2 separate regions of the Homo sapiens genome follow, and region 1 is linked to region 2. A link means that fine-mapping ties the variant in region 2 to the expression of a gene that starts in the linked region. Tissue or cell type: whole blood. Region 2 holds a variant in brackets; the other region holds the start of a gene. All regions are shown on one strand. Distances are between the middles of the regions.

Evidence for each region. PIP is the estimated chance that this variant, and not a neighbour inherited with it, causes the effect.
Region 1: SLC37A3 starts here. The variant in region 2 is fine-mapped to the expression of SLC37A3 in whole blood (TOPMed, PIP 0.95).

Annotation. Positions count from the first base shown.
Region 1 is chr7:140,392,757-140,403,068 of GRCh38, reverse strand. SLC37A3 (solute carrier family 37 member 3) reads left to right here and starts at 4,539. Exons shown (of 15, transcript NM_207113.3): 1 at 4,539-4,653. LOC124901759 (a long non-coding RNA gene) reads left to right here. Exons shown (of 2, transcript XR_007060561.1): 2 at 247-1,486. RefSeq lists silencers at 4,392-4,621, 4,732-5,001.
Region 2 is chr7:140,354,441-140,364,752 of GRCh38, reverse strand. SLC37A3 (solute carrier family 37 member 3) reads left to right here. Exons shown (of 15, transcript NM_207113.3): 5 at 262-345; 6 at 5,968-6,113; 7 at 8,989-9,085. Among named protein-coding and RNA genes, the nearest start is that of SLC37A3, 39 kb to the left of the region's middle. RefSeq lists enhancers at 677-1,540, 5,102-5,151. The variant A/G (reference allele first, on the strand shown) is at 5,479.

The sequences.
Region 1 (10,312 bases), 38 kb before region 2:
AGCTACTCTGGCAGGAGAATCGCTTGAGCCTGCGAGGTGGAGGTTGCAGTGAGCCAAGGTCGCGCCACTGCACTCCAGCCTGGGTGACAGAGTGAGACTCCGTCTCAAAAAAAAAAAGAAAAAAAGAGAAGAAACTCCTGGGCTCAAGTGATCCTCCTGCCTTGGCTTCCCGAAGTGCTGGGATTACAAGGCATGAAACCACCGTACCTGGCCAGATTGTAAGTAATTTAAGTCTTTGTTTTGTAGATCTGAATATCTCTTTGTGAGGAGTCAGAGAAAGGAGATGATGCAAAGAGAAGGAAGCAAAAACAAAACTAAAAGAACTTTGAAGGTATATGAGAAGAAAAAGCTGAAAAGAAAATGTCTGCCTCACTCCCTCAAAAATTCTACCATAGAGCAAAGGTTGACGTCCAGAAAACCTCAAGTTTATCAGTCCCAGATGCTGGCAGTAGAAGCATAAAGCTGAGGTGAATTTTCCTTACTATTTTTTCCCCAGAGTCTAGAACAGTAACTGCCTCCCAATGTCTATCACAGGGACCAGATTTTCTCCACTACATAGGATGTGATATGTAGGCAGTTAAATGGCATTATAGACACAATAAGCAAAATTGAAACAGAGACACCCTGTTGGATAAAATATTTACATCGGTGTCCTGTTTCCAAACTGTGGGCTGAGACCTATAAATGAGTCATGAAATCAACCTTTGTGGGTTGCAACCAGCATTTTCACAAGAAGGGATTAAGAAACAACTTCAGAATGTATCTTGTGTAGTAACAGTGACTACTGTTTTGCAAAATGTTTGGGTCAGTTGTACACATGCATATTTTACAGGGTGATGTAAAAAAAAAATGTTTTTTTTGAGACAGGGTCTCACTTTGTCTCCCAGGCTGAAGTGCAGTGGCACCGTCATGGCTCACTGCGGCCTCAACCTCCTGGGCTCAAGCAATCTTCCTGCCTTAGCCTCCTGTATATCTGGGACTACAGGTGTGCACCATCATGCCCAGCTATTTATTTCATTTTTTTGTAGAGCCAGGGCCTCACTTTGTTACCCAGACTGGTCTCGAACTCCTGGGATCAAGCAATCCTCCCACATCAGCCTCCCAAGGTGCTGGGATAACAGGCGTGGGCCACCGTGCCTGGCCTGAAATGTCTTTTTAACTGTAGGCTGGGGTCCGCAACGTTTGAGAAGCACTGAAATACAGGGCAATTTATTCACTGTCCAAGAACATTACTTCTATGATGTCTTCAGATAAATTTGAAAATATTTGTCTTACCCAAAATTCCAGTTACATATCCATTTTCAGGATACTCTCTTCTGAGTGAGATAAACTCAACACTGGCAGGTATAGCAAGAAAACAAAAGACTCTGCCAAATATTGCTGCAGGGTGAGAACCACCAGCACAATGTGGAAATCCAGTGTAGGTAAAGATTCGCCCCAAATGTGTGATCAGGAAATAAAACCTGTTAGGTGTCAGTGTCATGAAGTTCAGTGTCCAAATGTTGTCTTTCTTCTGGTAATGGTTACTTTTTTTTTTTTTTTCCTGAGATAAGGTTTAGCTTTTGTCACTCAGGCTCGAGTGCAATGGTGCGATCTTGGCTCACTGCAACCTCCACCTCCCGGGTTCAAGCGATTCTCCTGCCTCAGCCTCCCGAGTAGTTGGGATTACAGGCACCCGCCACCACGTCCAGCTAATTTTTGTATTTTTAGTAGAGATGGGGTTTCACTATGTTGGCCAGGCTGGTCTGGAACTCCTGACCTCAGGTGATCCACTTGCCTCGGCCTTCCAAAGTGCTGGGATTATAGGGGTGAGCCACCGCACCTGGGGTGGTTACTGTTTAAAAAAAAAGTCACCTGACTCAGACCCACTGAGCACTTGGAGAACATCTACAGGTAGAAAACAAATGTTACAAATATTTAAATATCCTGATGGTTTTGGAAGTCAAGGGGAGAGAGATCTTACCTCTGTCTACCACCCAACCCTCTCCACCAAGGTCACTATAAATACAAAGAGCATAGCTTGGGCTACAGGAAAGAAGGCATTCATATGTATAAATGTGTGTGTATATATACACTGTTTTTTCTTTTTTAAGAGACTGGGTCTCCCTCTGTCACCCAGGCTGGAGCACAGTGGTACGATCATAGCTCACTGCAGCCTCCAAAGGTGCGGCTGAAGTGATCCTCCTACCTCAACCTCCCTAGTAGCTGGGATTAAAGATACACACCACCACATGGCTAAGAAGGCATTCTAGCCCTGAGTGGTGGTGACACAGGTTATATACTTGAAGTATACACACACACATATATATGTATACACCCATATGTAAATATAACACAAAAAACTATGTATTTCACTCTATGTATATATATTTACCATTTTAACCGTTTTTAAGTGTACAATTCAATGGCATTAAATACATTGTTGTGCAACCAACATCACCATCCATCTCCAGGACTTTTTTGGCATCCCAAACGGAAACTCCATAGCCATTAAACAACAATTTCTCATTTCCCCTTCCCTCCAGCCATGGGCAACCACCATGCTACTTTCTGACTCTATGAATTTCACTACTCTGGCTACCTCATATAAGTGGAACTGTACTGTACTGGTCCTTTTATGTCTGACTTATTTCACTTAGCATAATGTTTTTGAAGGTTCGTCTATGTTGTAGTATGTGTCAGAATTTGCTACCTTTTTTAGGCTGAAAAATAAACGATTCACAATATATTTTTAAAAATAAAAGTAACATATTTGGCTCATTTATTTTTGCTCACCCTGACATCATATTTCTCCTTGGATGCCTAGAGACAAAACTACCACTGTATAAGGGCTAGAAACAAAACTACCACTGTATAAGGGCAAATAAAAATGAAAAATAACAGGCTTAATTCCTCTGCTGAAAATAAAGAGACTTCTCAGCCTTCTCTCTGTTCCTTCAAAATTTCTTTCTCTGTCCTTTTCGAATGTACACAAATCTTTATAACGGCGAAATGAGCCTCTTGCCAGTATCACAACTCAGAAATGTATCCTCAAGGACTTGGGGGTCATCTTTTTGAAATTCAGACGTGAGTTAGTGCCTGTATCTTCCAGTTCCTACATGAGGGTAAGAGACTAAATTAGTGGGTATGGGCGCCTTGCTCCAATTTGTAAAACTACCTCCTGCTATAAAGATATGCGAACTTTGGCCGGCTGCGGTGGCTCACACCTGTAATGCTAGAACTTTGGGAGGCCAAGGAGGGCAGATCACGAGGTCAGGAGATCGAGACCATCCTGGCTAACACGGTGAAACCCCGTCTCTACTAAAAATACAAAAAAATTAGCCAGGCGTGGTGGCGGGCGCCTGTAGTCCCAGCTATTCGGGAGGCTGAGGCAGGAGAATCCCTTGAACCCGGGAGGCGGAGCTTGCAGTGAGCTGAGATCACGCCACTGCACTCCAGCCTGGGTAACAGAGCAAGACTCCGTCTCAAAAACAAAAAACAAACAAACAAAAAGATATGCGAAGTTTAAAAAACGAACAACAACAACAAAAAGTTATGCGAAGTTTGTTTTGCTTCTGGATAAAGCCAACATGAGTGGTCTCCCCAATTACTACTATTAAGTAAGGAGGAACTATGTTTGACAAAAGGTGTTGTCAAGTTCTGTTATTTGAAGACTAGTGATTGTTTATCTTGAGAACAGGTATGTAATGGTTGTTGTGGAGATTTTCTGGATTAAGAGAAGTTTTTTTTCTTTAAAATTCGAACAAGTGTCTGTATTTTTTCCCTTTATTTAAGAAACGGTGGCGGCGGTGGTGGTGGTGGATGGGGGGCGGCTCTCACTACCTTGCCCAGGCTGGTCTCAAACTCTTGTTCTCAAATGATGCTCCTACTTCGGCCTCCCAAAGTGTTAGGATTACAGGTGTGAGACACTTGTGTTGGATTTTTTTTTTTTGGAGGCAGGGTCTCGTTCTGTTGCCCAGGCTGGTGCAGTGGAGCAATCACAGCTGCCAGCCTCAAACTTTTGGGCTCAAGCGATCCTCGCACCTCGGTCGCCCCAGTAGCAGGGACCACAGGCACATGCCACTACTCCTGGCTAATTTTAACATTTTTTGTAGAGATGGGGTCTGGCTATGTTGCTAAGGCTGGTCTTGAACTACTGGGTTCAAGTGATCCTCCCTTCTCGACCTCCTAAAGTGTTGGATTACAGGCGTGAGCCCACTGTGCCCGGCCTGCATTTAATTAGACACCTAAAATTTAGGCCGGTCAGTAGCACACTTAGCAGCACGTTACTTTTTATAAAAACAAAGACCGAATACCGCTTTTTTGAAAAAAAAAAAAAAAAAAAAAAAAAAAGGATGCACCAGTTCTCCCCATATCATTTCTTCTCTCTACCTCTCGTCTTTTGCAGCTAACATTACTGGCCAGGTCCGCAGCAGCAGAGTTCTGTGGGCTCCCAGCCTCCGCCCTCCTCGCCCTCCTCCGCGCCGGCAGGTGAGGCCGCGTGGCGGGACTACAACTCCCAGCGTGCCCCGCGACGGGAGGGTCACGTGGGCGTCCGGAAACCCTGGTCGCACCGCCAGGGGTGAGCTGGCGGCGGGGGAGGCGGGCAGCGGAGCCAAGCTGACCCGGCGAGCGGAGCCGGGGCTGGAGAGCGGCGACCACTGCGGATCTCGGGTGCGCAAGCGGTGATGCGTGGGGCCGAAGACCTGCTGGGGCGGGGGCGGGTCCAATCCGAGGGGCTTCCCGGGTCGGGAGGGCGGTGGGGAGATGTAGGTGGCGGCCCCCCTTGGGTGGGGCGCCCAGGCAGGGTCGGCCGCTCGCCCCCTCCTTCTCCTCCCTGGGCCCGGGCCTGGGGTCCCGGCCGTCACGGGGAGGCTGCGATGGGGTGGATGGGGAGGAGAAGGACCCCCGGGGGACCCTGCGGCCCGGCCCCGATCCATGCGGCAGAGGCTTTTGTGCTCCTCGCCCGCCTGTCCTCCGGCCGTGGGTCTGGGAGATTCTGACTTGATCAGAAAAGGGCTTGTCGTTCGGACCAGGGGAGAGGGGATGCTTTTCAGGTAGGTGGGGAAGGAAGCTCTTTGGAAAGGATGTATAGAGGTCAGAGAAGAAGCGTGGTCTCAGTGAGTGACTGGTTTTGTTTTCTGGTAACTAGCATGAACTCAGTCAAGGAATTTGGTCAAATTATTCGTCATTCCCTCCTTATTCTTCGCAGGGTGTGTTCTGTTTATTCTCAGTTTTGACAGGAGATAATGGGAATGTGTCCCCGGAGTTTTTAGTGTTTTTTTGAAATGTAAGATGGTAGGCTATCTCGTGGTAACTCTTACTGAAAAGTTTATAGTTTATAGGGAGGAGTGGTTCCTGGGGTGAGCAAAATCATTCAGTTGTTATCTTTTTGTCCACCGGTTTATTTCTACCTTTACACAAATTTATACATACATAAATATATATAACAGTTGTTGAAGGGAATGTCTTCAGTGCTTTGGTGCTTAAATGATTTCTTTTCAGTTTGTTTGATGTTTCTTGGATACTAGGCTCTATACTAAGAACTCCATATAAATTATCTCATTTAATTAATACATGAGGAAATTGAGCTTCGGGTTGGGCGCGGTGTCTCATGCCTGTAATCCCAGCACTTTGGGAGGCCGAGGCCTGTGGATTCCTTGAGGTCAGGAGTTCAAGACCAGCCTGGCCAACATGGTGAAACCCCGTCTCTACTAAAAATACAAAGATTAGCTGGGCGTCGTGGCGCATGCCTGTAATCCCAGCTACTCGGGAGGCTGAGGCAGGAGAATCGCTTGAACCTGGGAGGCGGAGGTTGCAGTGAGCCGAGATCACACCACTGCACTCCAGCCTGGGTGACAGAGCCAGACTCTGTCTTTTTTTTTTTTGAGACTGAGTTTTTGTTCTTGTCGCCCAGGCTGGAGTGCCGTGGCACCATCTCGGCTCACTGCAACCTCCGCCTCCCGGGTTCAAGTGATTCTCCTGCCTCAGCCTCCCGAGTAGCTGGGACTACAGGCGCCCGCCACCACGCCAGGCTAATTTTTGGATTTTTAGTAGGGACGGGGTTTCACCATATTGGCCATGATGATCTGGATCTCCTGACCTCGTGGTCCGCCTGCCTTGGCCTCCCAAAGCGCTGTAATTACAGGCGTGAGCCACTGCGCCCGGCCTCAGACTCTGTCAAAAAAAAAAAAACAAAAAAAAAAACAGAAATTGAGATTCAGAGAAGCTACTTTTAAGTGGAGGGTCTTAGATTCCATACCTGGCTTGTCTCTTGAATGACACCATTCTTCTATTAGTGTTTGATTTCGAGTCTCTGCCTAAGAAGGTGACCCGGAAACAATACTTTTATAAAAGTTAAGTCAACAGTATCTTGCTGCTTTCTAGCTGTCAGGATCAACTGCCTTGTTCATTGTTTAAGGTTCTGATTTGTGCTCTGTTCATCAGTGTTAATGTCATGTCACTGCAGTGACCATTAACTTGATTATAAATCCTTTGGTAGAAGAGGGAAAGATTTTTATCTTGAAAACTAGTTGTCTTTGGAACATGTCCAAAAACAGGGAGGAAGAATGTGGTTTTGGAAACCCTGGAATAAAATGAGAGATATTTACAGATAAATGCCAAGTATTTTATGCCTGTGGTAATGAGATAATTTAAGAAGAGATAAAAATTACAGGAAGACGGATGAATTAATGAATAAAAAGGATTTATGAGGTTCAAGTAAATGGCTTCGTATGAGATAATGTGGGATAAAAAAGATACTTGTGGCTGGGTGCAGTGGCTCATGCCCATAATCCTAGGGCTTTGGGAGGCTGAGGCAGGAGGATCTATCTCTTAAGGCCAGGAATTTAAGACCAGACTGGTTAACATAGCAAGACCCTGTTTCTACAAAAACTAAGAAAATTAGCCAGGTGTGATGGTGCCCACCTGTAGTCCCAGCAACTTTGGAGGCTGAGGCAGGAGGATCGCTTAAACCTAGGAAGGAGATTGAGGCTGCAGTGAACTATGATCACGCCACTGCACTCCAGCCTGGGTAACAGAGTGAGACCCTGTCTCTGAAAAAAAAAAAAAGATAGTTGTATGAGTGTGAGCATTGAGACGCTAAACTGCAACATATACAATACTGTAAAAATGGTGAACTCAACTATACATTTAATAATTTCCCACATTCTTCTTTACACTTTGAAAACACATAATCTTTTTACTGTGCAGACATAAAAACTGAAGTCTGGGAGGTGAGTAATTGCCCATCTAATGCCCCTCTCCTTTGAGTGTGTAAGAGAACCACTCTTACCAGTAAGATGTTTTTTTTCCCCATCCTTGGTATATACCTCTGAGTTTAGGTGTGCTAGTTCTTTTATTTATTTATTTATTTATTTTTTGAGACAGAGTCTTGCTCTGTTGCCCAGGTTGGAGAGCAGTAGGGGGATCTCGGTTCACTGCAACCTCCGCCTCCTGGGTTCAAGCAATTCTCCTGTTTCAGCCTCCCAAGTAGCTGGGATTACAGGCACCCACCACCACACCTGGCCAATTTTTGTGTTTTTAGTAGAGACAGGGTTTCGCCATATTCGCCAGGGTGGTCTAGAACTCCTGACCTCAAATGATCCACCTGCCTTGGCCTCCCAAAGTGCTGGGATTACAGGTGTGAGCCACCGCACCCAGCCTATTTTTATTTTTTTATAGCTCTTTTTTTTTTTTTTTTTTTTTTTTAATTTGAGATGGAGTCTCGCTTTGTCACCAAGGCTGGAGTGCAGTGGCACCATCTCAGCTCACTGCAGCCTCCGCCTCCCGGGTTCAAGCAGTTCTCTGCCTCAGCCTCCCAAGCAGCTGGGATTATAGGTGCCCACCACCACACCTGGCTAATTTTTATATTTTTAGTAGAGACGGGGTTTCACCATTTTGGCCAGGCTGGTCTTGAACTCCTAACCTCGTGATCCACCTGCCTTGGCCTCCCAAAGTGTTCAGGTTACAGGCATGAGCCACTGTGCCCGGCTTTATAGCTCTTTTTTAATGCATGAAGGGTGTGATAGTTCTAACTATTGTATTTTATCCAGCTTGGAGTATTTTCTATTTTAACCTTTACCCTTAAATGATATAACATAGGATCTAGAATTAGATCTGAGTTGGAATGTGCACTCCATCGTTTGAGAGAGATTGCTTTCTTTTTTAAAAAATTTTATGAGGGCTGGGCACAGTAGCTCACACCTGTAATCCCAGCACTTTGGGAGGCTGAGGCAGGCGGATCACGAGGTCAGGGGTTCGAGACCAGCCTTGCCAATATGGTGAAACCCTGTCTCTACTAAAAATACAAAAATTAGCTGGACGTGGTGGTGCATGCCTGTAGTCCCAGCTACTCAAGAGGCTGAGGCAGAAGAATCGCATGAACCTGGGAGGCGGAGGTTGCAGTAAGCCAAGATCACGCCACTGCCCTCCAGCCTGGGCGACAGAGCGAGACCCTGTTTTTTTTTCAGATGGAGTCTCGCTCTGTCGCCCAGGCTGGAGTGCAGTGGTGCAGTCATGGCTCACTGCTGCCTCAGCCTCCCAGGCTCAAGTGATCCTCCCACCTCAGCCTCCCAAGTAGATAGGGCCACAGGTGTCCGCCACCACAACTGGCTGATTTTTGTATTTTTTGTAGAGATGAATGAGGTCTCCCTATGTTGCCAAGGTTGGTCTTAAACTCTTGAGCTTAAGTGATCCTCCCACCTTGGCCTCCCAAAGTGCTGGGATTATAGGCGTGAGCCACTGGACCAGACCTAGAGATTACTTTCTAATATCTGTTTTCTCATCTGTAAAACATTGAGAGAACTAAATGCAGTAATGCATGGTAGGTACCTAGCATGGTGCCTAGTACTTTGTAAGCATTCAGTGTTCTGCTGTCAGTCAACCAATTCATTGATTCAAAAAAAAACTTTTTTTTTTGATATGGGGTCTCACTCTGTTGCCCAGGCTGGAGTGCAATGGTGCAACCTTGGCTCACTTCAGTCTCCACCTACCGGGTTCAAGCGATCCTCCCGCCTCCACCTCTCGAGTAGCTGGGACTACAGGTGTGCACCAGCATGCCCCGCTGATTTTTGTATTTTTTGTAGAGACAGGGTTTCACCATATTGCTCAGGCTGGTCCCGAACTCGTGGGCTCAAGCCGTCTGTCTGCCTTGGCCTCCCAAACTGTTGAGATTACAAGTGTGAGCCATCGCGCCCGGCCCAAAAAATCTTTATTGATCGTTCTCAGTGCTCTGCTGGGTCCTGTGGATGTGGCTGTGAGACTCAGGACACAGAGAGCCACTGCTTTTATGGAGCTTACAGATGAACAGTAGACATGGAAACAATTAAACCAGATAACTGGGAGAGATGCTCTGAAGGAAAGAAATGGCGAAAGAGATGAGAGAGGTAGTAACCAGGGGAGACCATTTTAGATAGGGTTATCAGGGAGCTCACTCTAGGGGGTGACATTTCATTGACTAGCCAAGAAAAGGAAGGAGCAAGCCATTTGCCAAGAAGCAGGACAAAAACACTCCTCTCGTGGAAGAACAAACACAAAGCCCGAAGCAAGAGGAGGCTTGATGGGTTCAGGGACAGGAGAGGGATTTGGTGTGGGGAGTTGGTGTTGGTGAGGGTGGGAGGTAGGTGGGCACAGTAGAAAGGAGACAAGCTAGATCCTCACCAGGCGGCCTGGCAAAGGATTGGGAACCACCCAGCTGCCCAGTGGGGGCCTGGTTAAATATCTAAAGATTCCTTCATGTCAGTGAGGACGGCGCACGTGTTCAGCTCTGCAGGTGCTGATATGGATGGACCTCCAACCTCTGGCAAGTGAAGAAAATGCACAACAGATAGTGTGTGCTGTGTGCTTGCATGTGTGATCTTGGGGGCTCTGCCTGGTATGTGTGCAGAGGCACAGATTGTGCCCCTGAAGGAAAGAGAGAAGATGTGAAAGAAACTGGTTAGGAGATCAGGGTGGACTGAGGACACAGGAGGAAGTTGTATCCTTTGAGTTTTTTTTTTGGGACGGAGTCTTGCTCTGTCACCCAGGCTGGAGTACAGTGGCGCGATCTCAGCTCACTGCAACCTCCACCTCCTGGGTTCAAGCGATTCTCCTGCTTCAGCCTCCTGAGTAGCTGGGATTACAGGCGCATGCCACTGCTTCTGGATAATTTTTGTATTTTTAGTAGAGACATAGTTTCATCATGTTGGCCCGGCTGGTCTCAAACTCCTGACCTCAGGTGATCCGCCCACCTCAGCCTCCCAAAATGCTGAGATTACAGGTGTGAGCCACTGCACCCAGCCATATCTTTTGATTTATACCTTAGGCATATAATACCAGTTGAAAAGTAATGAAA
Region 2 (10,312 bases):
TGCCATTTCTTTTTTTTTTTAATATTTTTTTCCTTCTATTTTCATAACTTTTTTGTTTTCACTGTATTACTGACCATGTTATCCAGCCCACTGCCATTTCATGAAACATTTGTGAAACTCCTGTAGACAGGTAGCCTCGGCATGTGTATAAGAGTTAATTTTAAATAATATCTGTGTTTGTCTCATTTGCTTTGCAGTGCATGTTACTTTTTCATACTGTGTTATTATTTAGAGCTGTAAAAGAAAATGCTTTATTTTTAGGGCCTATTCATCAGTGGCATCGTTGGGGATCGGTTGAATTTGCGATGGGTTCTGTCTTTTGGCATGTGCTCTTCTGCATTAGTGGTAAGTTGAAAGGTCTTATTATTATTATTTTGGTCAGGTATTTTAGAATCTAAGTAATCTCCCTACTTCTCTGTAGAATAGAATAGTAAGATTAATCCTCATTGTTCGAATCCCTCATTTGCCTTTTCACTTAGATGAGTCTTTTTTTTCCCCCCCGAGACAGAATCTTGCTCTATTACCCCAGGCTGGAGTGCAGTGGTGCGATCTCAGCTCACTGCAACCTCTGCCTCCCATGTTCAAGCGATTCTGCTGCCTCAGCCTCCTGAGCAGCTGGGACTATAGGTACAGCTCACCACGCCTGGGTGATTTTTGTATTTTTGGTAGAGACGGGGTTTCACCATGTTGGCCAGTCTTATCTCCTGGCCTCAGGTGATCCTCCTGCCTTGGCCTCCCAAAGTGCTGGGATTACAGGCATGAGCCACTGCGCCTGGCCAGATGAGTCTTTTTAAAGTAAGATTCTAATCAGGTTCCTTTGTTGTCCCTCAGGCACCAGCAGAGTTAATTAATAGTCTGAATAAATGGCCTGGCATTCACTACACCCTGGCCCCAGCCTGCCTTCCCATCATATTTGTCACTCTGCTTCATCGCTTTGCTCCAGCCAAGCTGGACTGCTTTCCAGGCCGCTAACATCCCGCTCCTTTCTTTTTTTTTTTTTTTTTTTTTTTTTGAGGCGGAGTTTTGCTCTTTTTTTTTTATTTTTTTATTTATTTTTTTTTTATTGATCATTCTTGGGTGTTTCTCGCAGAGGGGGATTTGGCAGGGTCATAGGACAATAGTGGAGGGAAGGTCAGCAGATAAACAAGTGAACAAAGGTCTCTGGTTTTCCTAGGCAGAGGACCCTGCGGCCTTCCGAAGTGTTTGTGTCCCTGGGTACTTAAGATTAGGGAGTGGTGATGACTCTTAACGAGCCTGCTGCCTTCAAGCATCTGTTTAACAAAGCACATCTTGCACCGCCCTTAATCCATTTAACCCTGAGTGGACACAGCACATGTTTCAGAGAGCACAGGGTTGGGGATAAGGTCACAGATCAACAGGATCCCAAGGCAGAAGAATTTTTCTTAGTACAGAACAAAATGAAAAGTCTCCCATGTCTACTTCTATCCACACAAACCCGGCAACCATCCGATTTCTCAATTTTTTCCCCACCCTTCCCGCCTTTCTATTCCACAAAACCGCCATTGTCATCATGGCCCATCCCCAATGAGCCGCTGGGCACACCTCCCAGACGGGGTCGTGGCCGGGCAGAGGGGCTCCTCACTTCCCAGTAGGGGCGGCCGGGCAGAAGCGCCCCTCACCTCCCGGATGGGGCGGCTGGCCGGGCGGGGGGCTGACCCCCCCCACCACCCTCCCTGACGGGGCGGCTGGCCGGGCAGAGGGGTCCTCACTTCCCATTAGGGGCGGCCGGGCAGAGGCGCCCCTCACCTCCCGGCCGGGGCGGCCGGCTGGGCGGGGGGCTGACCCCGCCACCTCCCTCCCGGACAGGGCGGCTGGCCGACCCCCCCCCCCGCCTCCCTCCCGGACGGGGCGGCTGGCCGGGCAGAGGGGCTCCTCGCTTCCCAGTAGGGGCGGCCGGGCAGAGGCGCCCCTCACCTCCGGGACGGGGCGGCTGGCCAGGCGGGGGGCTGATCCCCCCACCTCCCTCCCGGACGGGGCGGCTGGCCGGGTGGGGGGCTGACCCCCCACCTCCCTCCCGGACTGGGCGGCTGGCCGGGCAGGGGGCTGACCCCCCCCCCCACCTCCCTCCCGGACGGGGCGGCTGGCCGGGCAGAGGGGTCCTCACTTCCCAGTAGGGGCAGCCGGGCAGAGGCGCCCCTCACCTCCCGGACGGGGCGGCTGGCCGGGCGGGGGGCTGACCCCCCACCTCCCTCCCGGACGGGGCGGCTGGCCGGGCAGAGGGGTCCTCACTTCCCGGTAGGGGCGGCCGGGCAGAGGCGCCCCTCACCTCCCAGACGGGGCGGCTGGCCGGGCGGGGGGCTGACCCCCCCCCCCACCTCCCTCCCGGACGGGGCGGCTGCCGGGCGGAGACGCTCCTCACTTCCCAGACGGGGTGGCTGCCGGACGGAGGGGCTCCTCACTTCTCAGACGGGGCGGTTGCCAGGCAGAGGGTTTCCTCACTTCTCAGACGGGGCGGCCGGGCAGAGACGCTCCTCACCTCCCAGACAGGGTTGCGGCCCAGCAGAGGCGCTCCTCACATCCCAGACAGGGCGGCGGGGCAGAGGCGCTCCCCACATCTCAGACAATGGGCGGCGGGGAAGAGGCGCTCCTCGCTTCCTAGATGGGATGGCGGCCGGGAAGAGGCGCTCCTCACTTCCTAGATGGGATGGTGGCCGGGCAGAGACGCTCCTCACTTTCCAGACTGGGCAGCCAGGCAGAGAGGCTCCTCATATCCCAGACGATGGGGGGCCAGGCAGAGACGCTCCTCACTTCCCAGACAGGGTGGCGGCTGGGCAGAGGCTGCAATCTCGGCACTTTGGGGGGCCAAGGCAGGCAGCTGGGAGGTGGAGGTTGTAGCGAGCCGAGATCACGCCACTGCACTCCAGCCTGGGCACCATTGAGCACTGAGTGAACGAGACTCCGTCTGCAATCCCGGCACCTCGGGAGGCCGAGGCTGGCGGATCACTCGCGGTTAGGAGCTGGAGACCAGCCCGGCCGACACAGCAAAACCCCGTCTCCACCAAAAAAAAAACGAAAACCAGTCAGGCGTGGCGGCGCGCGCCTGCAATCGCAGGCACTCGGCAGGCTGAGGCAGGAGAATCAGGCAGGGAGGTTGCAGTGAGCCGAGATGGCAGCAGTACCGTCCAGCTTTGGCTCGGCATCAGAGGGAGACCGTGGAAGGAGACCGTGGAGAGAGAGGGAGACGGAGAGGGAGAGAGGGAGGGGGAGGGGGAGGGGGAGGGGGAGGGGGAGGGGGAGGGAGAGGCTGTGTGTCCGGAGTTTTGCTCTTGTTGCCCAGGCTGGAGTGGAATGGCACAATCTTGGCTCACCACAACCTCCACCTCCCAGGTTCAAGCGATTCTCATGCCTCAGCCTCCTGAGTAGCTGGGATTACAAGCATGCACCACCACACCTGACTAACTTTTTTATTTTTAGTAAAGACGGGTTTCTCCATGTTGGTCAGGCTGGTCTCGAACTCCCGACCTCAGGTGATCCGCCCACCTCGGCCTCCCAAAGTGCTGGGATTACAGGTGTGAGCCACCGCACCTGGCCCTATCCTGCTCCTTTCTATCTCGGTGCTTTTGTTTCTCCTGTTCTGCCTGCCTTGGATGGTCCCCTTTTCAGCTCTCCATAGTCTAACTCACAGTCTCCTTCAAGCATTGGCCAAATGACACCTCTTTGAGAATGTCAGTCCCGCTTCTGAGCTGCAGTGCCTGTTTCTTTGCAGGCACTTGAAACAGTCTGCCGCTTAGCTTGGTTATTTCTGGTTCAGTCTTGCTTTCCCTTAGGGTGGGTATGCAGTGGTTAAAATCACAGATTCCCTAGACAAGGACAGCCTGGGTTTCTGTCTGTCTTCTGTGGTTTTCTAGCTTATGATTTCTGTGAGCTTCAGAGGGAGATGGGCATATTAGCTCTCCCCGGGTGGCAGTGAGGACTGTGAGTTTCTGTATGTGAGGCATTTGAAACAAGTGCTGTGTAGGGGAGGATCCATATCTGATTAATCTTTTTTTTTTTTTTTTTAAACGGAGTCTTGCTCTGTCACCCAAGCTGGAGTGCAGTGGCATGATCTTGGCTCACTGCAACCTCCACTTCCCAGATTCAAGCCATTCTCCTGTTTTAGCCTCCTGAGTAGCTGGGACTACAGGTGTGCACCACCATTCCCGGCTAATTTTTGTATTTTTAGTAGAGTCAGGGTTTCACCATGTTGGCCAGGCTAGTCTTGAACTCCTGACCTCAGGTGATCTGCCCACCCCAGCCTCCCAAAGTGCTGGGATTACAGGGGTGAGCCACCGTGCCCAGCCTCCATATCTGACTAATCGTCATTGCTTACTAGCTTCTAGTCAGGAATTTTTGTTGATTAAATGAAACCATGGAGTTTAGTTAGACCCTAATTTATTATGATTATTATTTTTTTAGAGATAAGGTCTCGATTTGCTGCCCAGGCTGGAGTGCAGCGGTGTGATCCTGCAGCCTTGAACTCCCAAGCTCGAGCAATCCTCCCATTTTAGCCTCCCGTGTAGCTGGGACTGTAGGTGTGTACCATCATGCTTAGCTAATTTTTAAATTTTTTAGTCATGGGGTCTCACTATATTGCCCAGGTTGTTCCTTGAACTCCTGGCCTTAAGTGATCCTCCCTCCTTTGCCTCCGCAAACACTGGAATTACCGGCACAAGTCCCTGCGTTTGGCCTACTATTGTTTTTCAGTGTTTGTCATTTGAGTGTAAGTAAAACCTTTTTTCCCCTTGACATTTTAGAGATGGAAGCACTTTATTTATTTATGAGTTGCTCACCCACACATAATAAACATATTATTTTAAAACCTGTGTACAGACTTTTTTGTGTTTTATGTATTTTTTAAAAACTGCAGTTTGTACATAAACTTGCCCTTTTTAAGCATATTGTTCAGACTTTTCAACAAATGAGTAGTTTTGTGACCGCCCCTTCTTTCTCCAGCCCCTGGCAACCCCTGATCATTTTTCTGTGTACAGTTTTACTTATTCCAGAATGTCTTGTAACTGGAACTAGACAGTATTATACATACTATTTTTTAATCATGCAGAGTATTCTCAGAATAGAGTTTGACTGTAGATAAAATGTCCACTTGAGCAAAATGCCTGGAAAAAAGCAGCCCCTTGATGAAAGCTGCTAAATGATTCAGCAGATCACAAGTTTGATAGGTTTCGCTTTCGTTGATTAACTCAGGAGCTGTAGCCATAACAGTGGCTGGCATGCGCCCCGTGCCTCTGCCCATAGCAGCACCTGGCACTGCTCCGGGAAAGGTGGCCTCCCTGGGCTCGTTCTGTCCTCACAGCAGCCCTCTGGAGGTTGCTGTTCCCTCCACATGCACAGTCTGAGGGTGAGGAGATGGAAATACATGTAAAATGAGGAATTACTTTTTTTTTTTTTTTTTGAGACAGAGTCTCGCACTCCCGCGCAGGCTGGAGTGCAGTGGCACGATCTTGGCTCACTGCAAGCTCC[A/G]CCTCCCAGGTTCATGCCATTCTCCTGCCTCAGCCTCCTGAGTAGCTGGGACTACAGGCACCTGCCACCACGCCTAGCTAATTTTTTATAATTTCATTAGAGACGGGGTTTCACCGTGTTAGCCAGGATGGTCTCGATTTCCTGACCTTGTGATCTGCCCTCCTCGGCCTCCCAAAGTGCTGAGATTACAGGCGTGAGCCCGGCCTGGAATTCACTTTTTAGCCTTGAAGATGTCAGTTGGAGGGCTGATAGCTTAATGACTTTATGTCTTTGGCATCTCCTCCTCTCTGGTGGGCAGTGATTGGGTGGCTGCCTCCTCACTGTGGCTCTGAGCAGGACCTTTGTGATGCTGGCCACGTGACTTACAGGCACTGGCTGTGTGAGTGTATCCTTCACGTGGTCTCTACTCTGAAGCAAGTGGGTAGAGTGGCGTCCACTGAAAGTGTCAGTGTGGCTGTTACATATTCCTTTTGTTTCCTCCTCTTCAAGGTGTTTGTCTTTGGTGCGCTCACAGAATGGCTGCGTTTCTACAACAAATGGCTGTACTGCTGCCTGTGGATTGTGAACGGCCTGCTGCAGTCCACTGGTTGGCCCTGTGTGGTTGCTGTTATGGGCAACTGGTTTGGGAAAGCCGGGTATGCCACTTCCTTCCTCTCTAATTTCTCTGTTTAAGTGGTTTCCATGGTGGATTTTTCAGACTTGTCAAAGTCAGTTACTTTGCTGCCTTAGATACCACCCACATCTTTCGTTAGCAAGTCAGAGTTGTTCAGGGAGAGAGGGTTTCACGTCAGTGTGCGTTGGAAATGGTGTGGACCTTAGAAGTCATCCAGCCTAGGAGACACACTCCTACCACTCTTTGGGCTGTGGGCAGATTCTGAGTGTGGGCCAAGGCAGGAGGTCTCAATTTTTTATTTTACTCATCGTTTCTTTATAGAACATAAAAATCTCATTTACTATCCATCATGTATCTTCCTTTGGGTTTTGCCTTCCCTGCCCTTTTTTGAGAGTGATCTTATTTAACCTTTTTACATTAAAGATAAGGAAATTAAGGTCAAAGGTTATTCATGTTGACCTGCCCAAGGTCATGTAACAAGGGCTCTAATTAGACTCAGATGAAGAACGCCAGACTTTGGGGCTTGATCAAATGGGGTATTTTTTCCCTCTAAACCTTCAAGGAGCTTTTTTTTCTTTTTTGTTTTTGAGACAGAGTCTTGCTCTGTCACCAGGCTGGAGTGCAGTGGGGTGATCTCGGCTCACTGCAACCTTCGCCTCCGGGGTTCAAGTGATTCTCCTGCCTCAGCCTCCCAAGTAGCTGGGATTACAGGTGTGTACCACCATGTCCAGCTAATTTTTTTTTTTTTTTTGAGATGGAGTTTTGCTCTTGTTGCCCATTGCAATGGCGCGATCTCGGCTCACTGCAACCTCCGCCTCCCAGGTTCAAGCGATTCTCCTGCTGTAGCCTCCTGAGTAGCTGGGATTACAGGCATGTGCCCCCACACCTGGCTAGTTTTGCATTTTTAGTACAGATGGGGTTTCTCCATGTTGGTCAGGCTGGTCTCGATCTCCTGACCTCAGGTGATTTCGCCCGCCTCAGCCTTCCAAAGTGCTGGGATTACAGGCATGAGCCACCGCACCCAGCCATAATTTTATATATAAATGGAATCATACAGTATGTACTCTTTTTTTGAGTCATCTTTTTTTTTTTTTTTTCCTGTAGAGAAAGGGTCTGTGTTGCCCAGGCTGGTCTCAATTTCATGGCCTCAAGCTATTCTGCCTCGGCCTCCCGAAGTGCTGGGAATATAGGCATGAGCCACCACACCCAGCCTTTGTGTCTTCTTTCATTCAGCATAATTATAAATTTATTCATGTTTATTCATTCACCTGTGGATGAACATTTGGGTTGTTTTCAGTTTTGGGCGGTTACAAATAAAGCTCCTGGGAACATTTGTGTACAAATCCTTGTGTGGACATATGCTTTCATTTCTCTTGGGTAAATATCTAGGGGTAGAATGGCTGGATCATATGCTAGGTTTGTATTTCCCTTTTTTTTGTTTTTCCCCAGGACAGAGTTTCGCTCTTACTGCCCAGGCTGGAGTGCAATGGCGTGATCTCGGCTCACCTCAGCCTCCACCTCCTGGGTTCAAGCAATTCTCCTTCCTCAGCCTCCCGAGTAGCTGGGATTACAGGGGCCCGCCACCATGCCCAGCTAATTTTTTGTATTTTTAGTGGAGATGGGGTTTCTCCATGTTGGCCAGGCTGGTCTTGAACTCCTGACCTCAGGTGATCCACCCACCTTGGCCTCCCAAAGTGCTGGGACTATAGGCGTAGCTACTGCGCCTGGCTGCGTTTACCATTTTAAGACACTGGCAGTCTCTTCCAAGGTGGTCGTACCATTTTACATTCCCATCAGCAGAGCATAAGGGTTCTTATTGCTCTGTGCCCTTCCCAACACTTGGCGTGCTTGGTGTTTTTTGATTTTAGCCATTCTAATAGGTGTGTAATGATATCGCATTGTGACTTTAATTTCCATTTTTCTAATATCTAATGACGTTGAGCATCTTTTTAAAAACATTTTTGCTTTGTTTTGCTTTTGAAACAGGGTCTCGCCCTGTCACCCAGGCTGGAGTATAGTGGTGCGATCTCGGCTCACTGCAACCTCCGCCTCCTGGTTTCAAGTGATTCTCTTGCCTCAGCCTCCCAAGTAGCTGGGATTATAGGTGTGCAGCCACCATGTGCAGCTAATTTTTGTATTTTTAGTAGAGACGGGGTTTCGCCGTGTTGGTCAGGCTAGTCTCAAACTCCTGACCTCAAGTGACCTGCCCACCTCAGGCCTCCCAAAGGCTGAGATTACAGGCGTGAGCCCTCGCCTGGCCACTTGAGTGTTTTTTCGTGTGCTTCTTTGTATATTTTTTTGTGTGAAGTATCTATTAAAATCTTTTGCCCACTTTTCAAAGACTTTGTATTTTGAGATGATTGTAGATTCATGCTTTTTAACATACTATTGCATTGTCTGTTGTCATATTTTACTGAGTTTTGAGGGCCTTATATTCTGGATTTTTTTGTTTTGTTTTTTTTTTTTGGGAGGTGGAGTCTCGCTTTGTTGTCAAGGCTGGAGTGCAGTGGCGTGATCTCGGCTTACTGCAACCTCTGCCTCATGGGTTCAAGCTATTCTCTTGCCTCAGTCTTCCGAGTAGCTGGGATTACAGGCGCCTGCCACCACGCCCAACTGATTTTGTATTTTTAGTAGAGATGGGGTTTCTCCATGTTGGTCAGGCTGGTCTCGAACTCCTGACCTCAGGTGATCTGTCCGCCTTGGCCTCCCAAAGTACTGGGATTACAGGTGTGAGCCACTGCGCCCAGCCCATTTTAGTGTATTTTTAAAAACTTTTTAAATAGCATGTTTAGTCTTGGTAGTATGCACCTTGGTTGTTTTGGCTGTTTTGTATTTTGAACTGCCCAGAGTATCTCTTCTGACCATGGCCCTTTGTCTCCCACTGTTTTCCATCTTAGACGAGGAGTTGTTTTTGGTCTCTGGAGTGCCTGTGCTTCGGTGGGCAACATTTTGGGAGCGTGCCTAGCTTCTTCTGTTCTTCAGTATGGTTATGAGGTAGGTATTGTTTTCTAGCTCTGGTGCTCTCTCTCTCTCTCTGTGTGCACATGTGTATTGCTTTTTATGTATTAAATAATACTGTGGCCATTTAAAACTATGTAGAACTGTGTCTGGATAGGGCAAGGCTTGTATTAAAAGTAGACAAACTTCTGGCCGGGTGTGGTGGCTCACGCCTATAACCCCAGCACTTTGGGAGGCCAAGGCAGGCGGATCAGCCGAGGTCGGGAGTTTGAGACCAGTTTGGCCAACATGGTGAAACCTCGTCTCTACTCAAAAAATACAAAAATTAGCTGGGTGTGGTGGCGCATGCCTATAATCCCAGCTACTCTGGAGGCTGAGGCAGGAGAATCGTTTGAACCCACGAGGCGGAGGTTGCAGTGAGCCAAGGTCGCACCGCTTCACTCCAGCCTGGGTGACAGAGTGAGACTCTGTTCAGAAATAAATTAATTAAAAAAAAAAAAGTAGACAAACTTCTGATATATTCATTAAAAGTAGATAAACTTCTGATATATTCAAACACATAAAAAATTATTCGTAACAAAAACACTATGGAGAGTCTAAAGACATATAACCAGTTGAGAAGTATTTGCAACTCATGTTACAGATAAAGGACTAATCTGGGTCAGGCATGGTGGCTCACGCCTGTAATCCCAGCACTTTGGGAGGCTGAAGTAGAAGGATCACTTGAGCCCAGGAGTTCAAGATCAGCCTGGGCAATATAATGAGACCTTGTACCTACAAAAAAACTAAAAAATTAGCTGAGTGTGGGGGTGTATGCCTATAGTCTCTGCTATTCAGGAGGCTGAGGTGGGAGGATTGATTGCTTGAGCCTGGGAGCTGGAGGGTACAGTGAGCCAAGATACACCACTGCACTCCAATCTTGGTGATGGAGCAAGACCCTGTCTCAAAAAAAAAAAAAAAAAACACCAAAAAGCAAAGACTAATCCCCCCTAATATGTAAAGAGCATCCATGAATTGATAAGAAAAAGACCAACAACAGAAAGATACAGAATTTGAATGTATAGCTCATGTAAAGCATGTAGGAATGGCTTGTAAACATATGTAAAATATTCTACTCACTGCTTATTCATTTAATAAATATTTAACTCCCTGTATATGCTCTTGGAACTATAGAATATAGAACTGACCAACAGGGACAAAAATCTCTGTTCTTATGGAACTTAGCAGGGAAATGCAAATTAAAGCTATGTTGTTTAAAAAAAA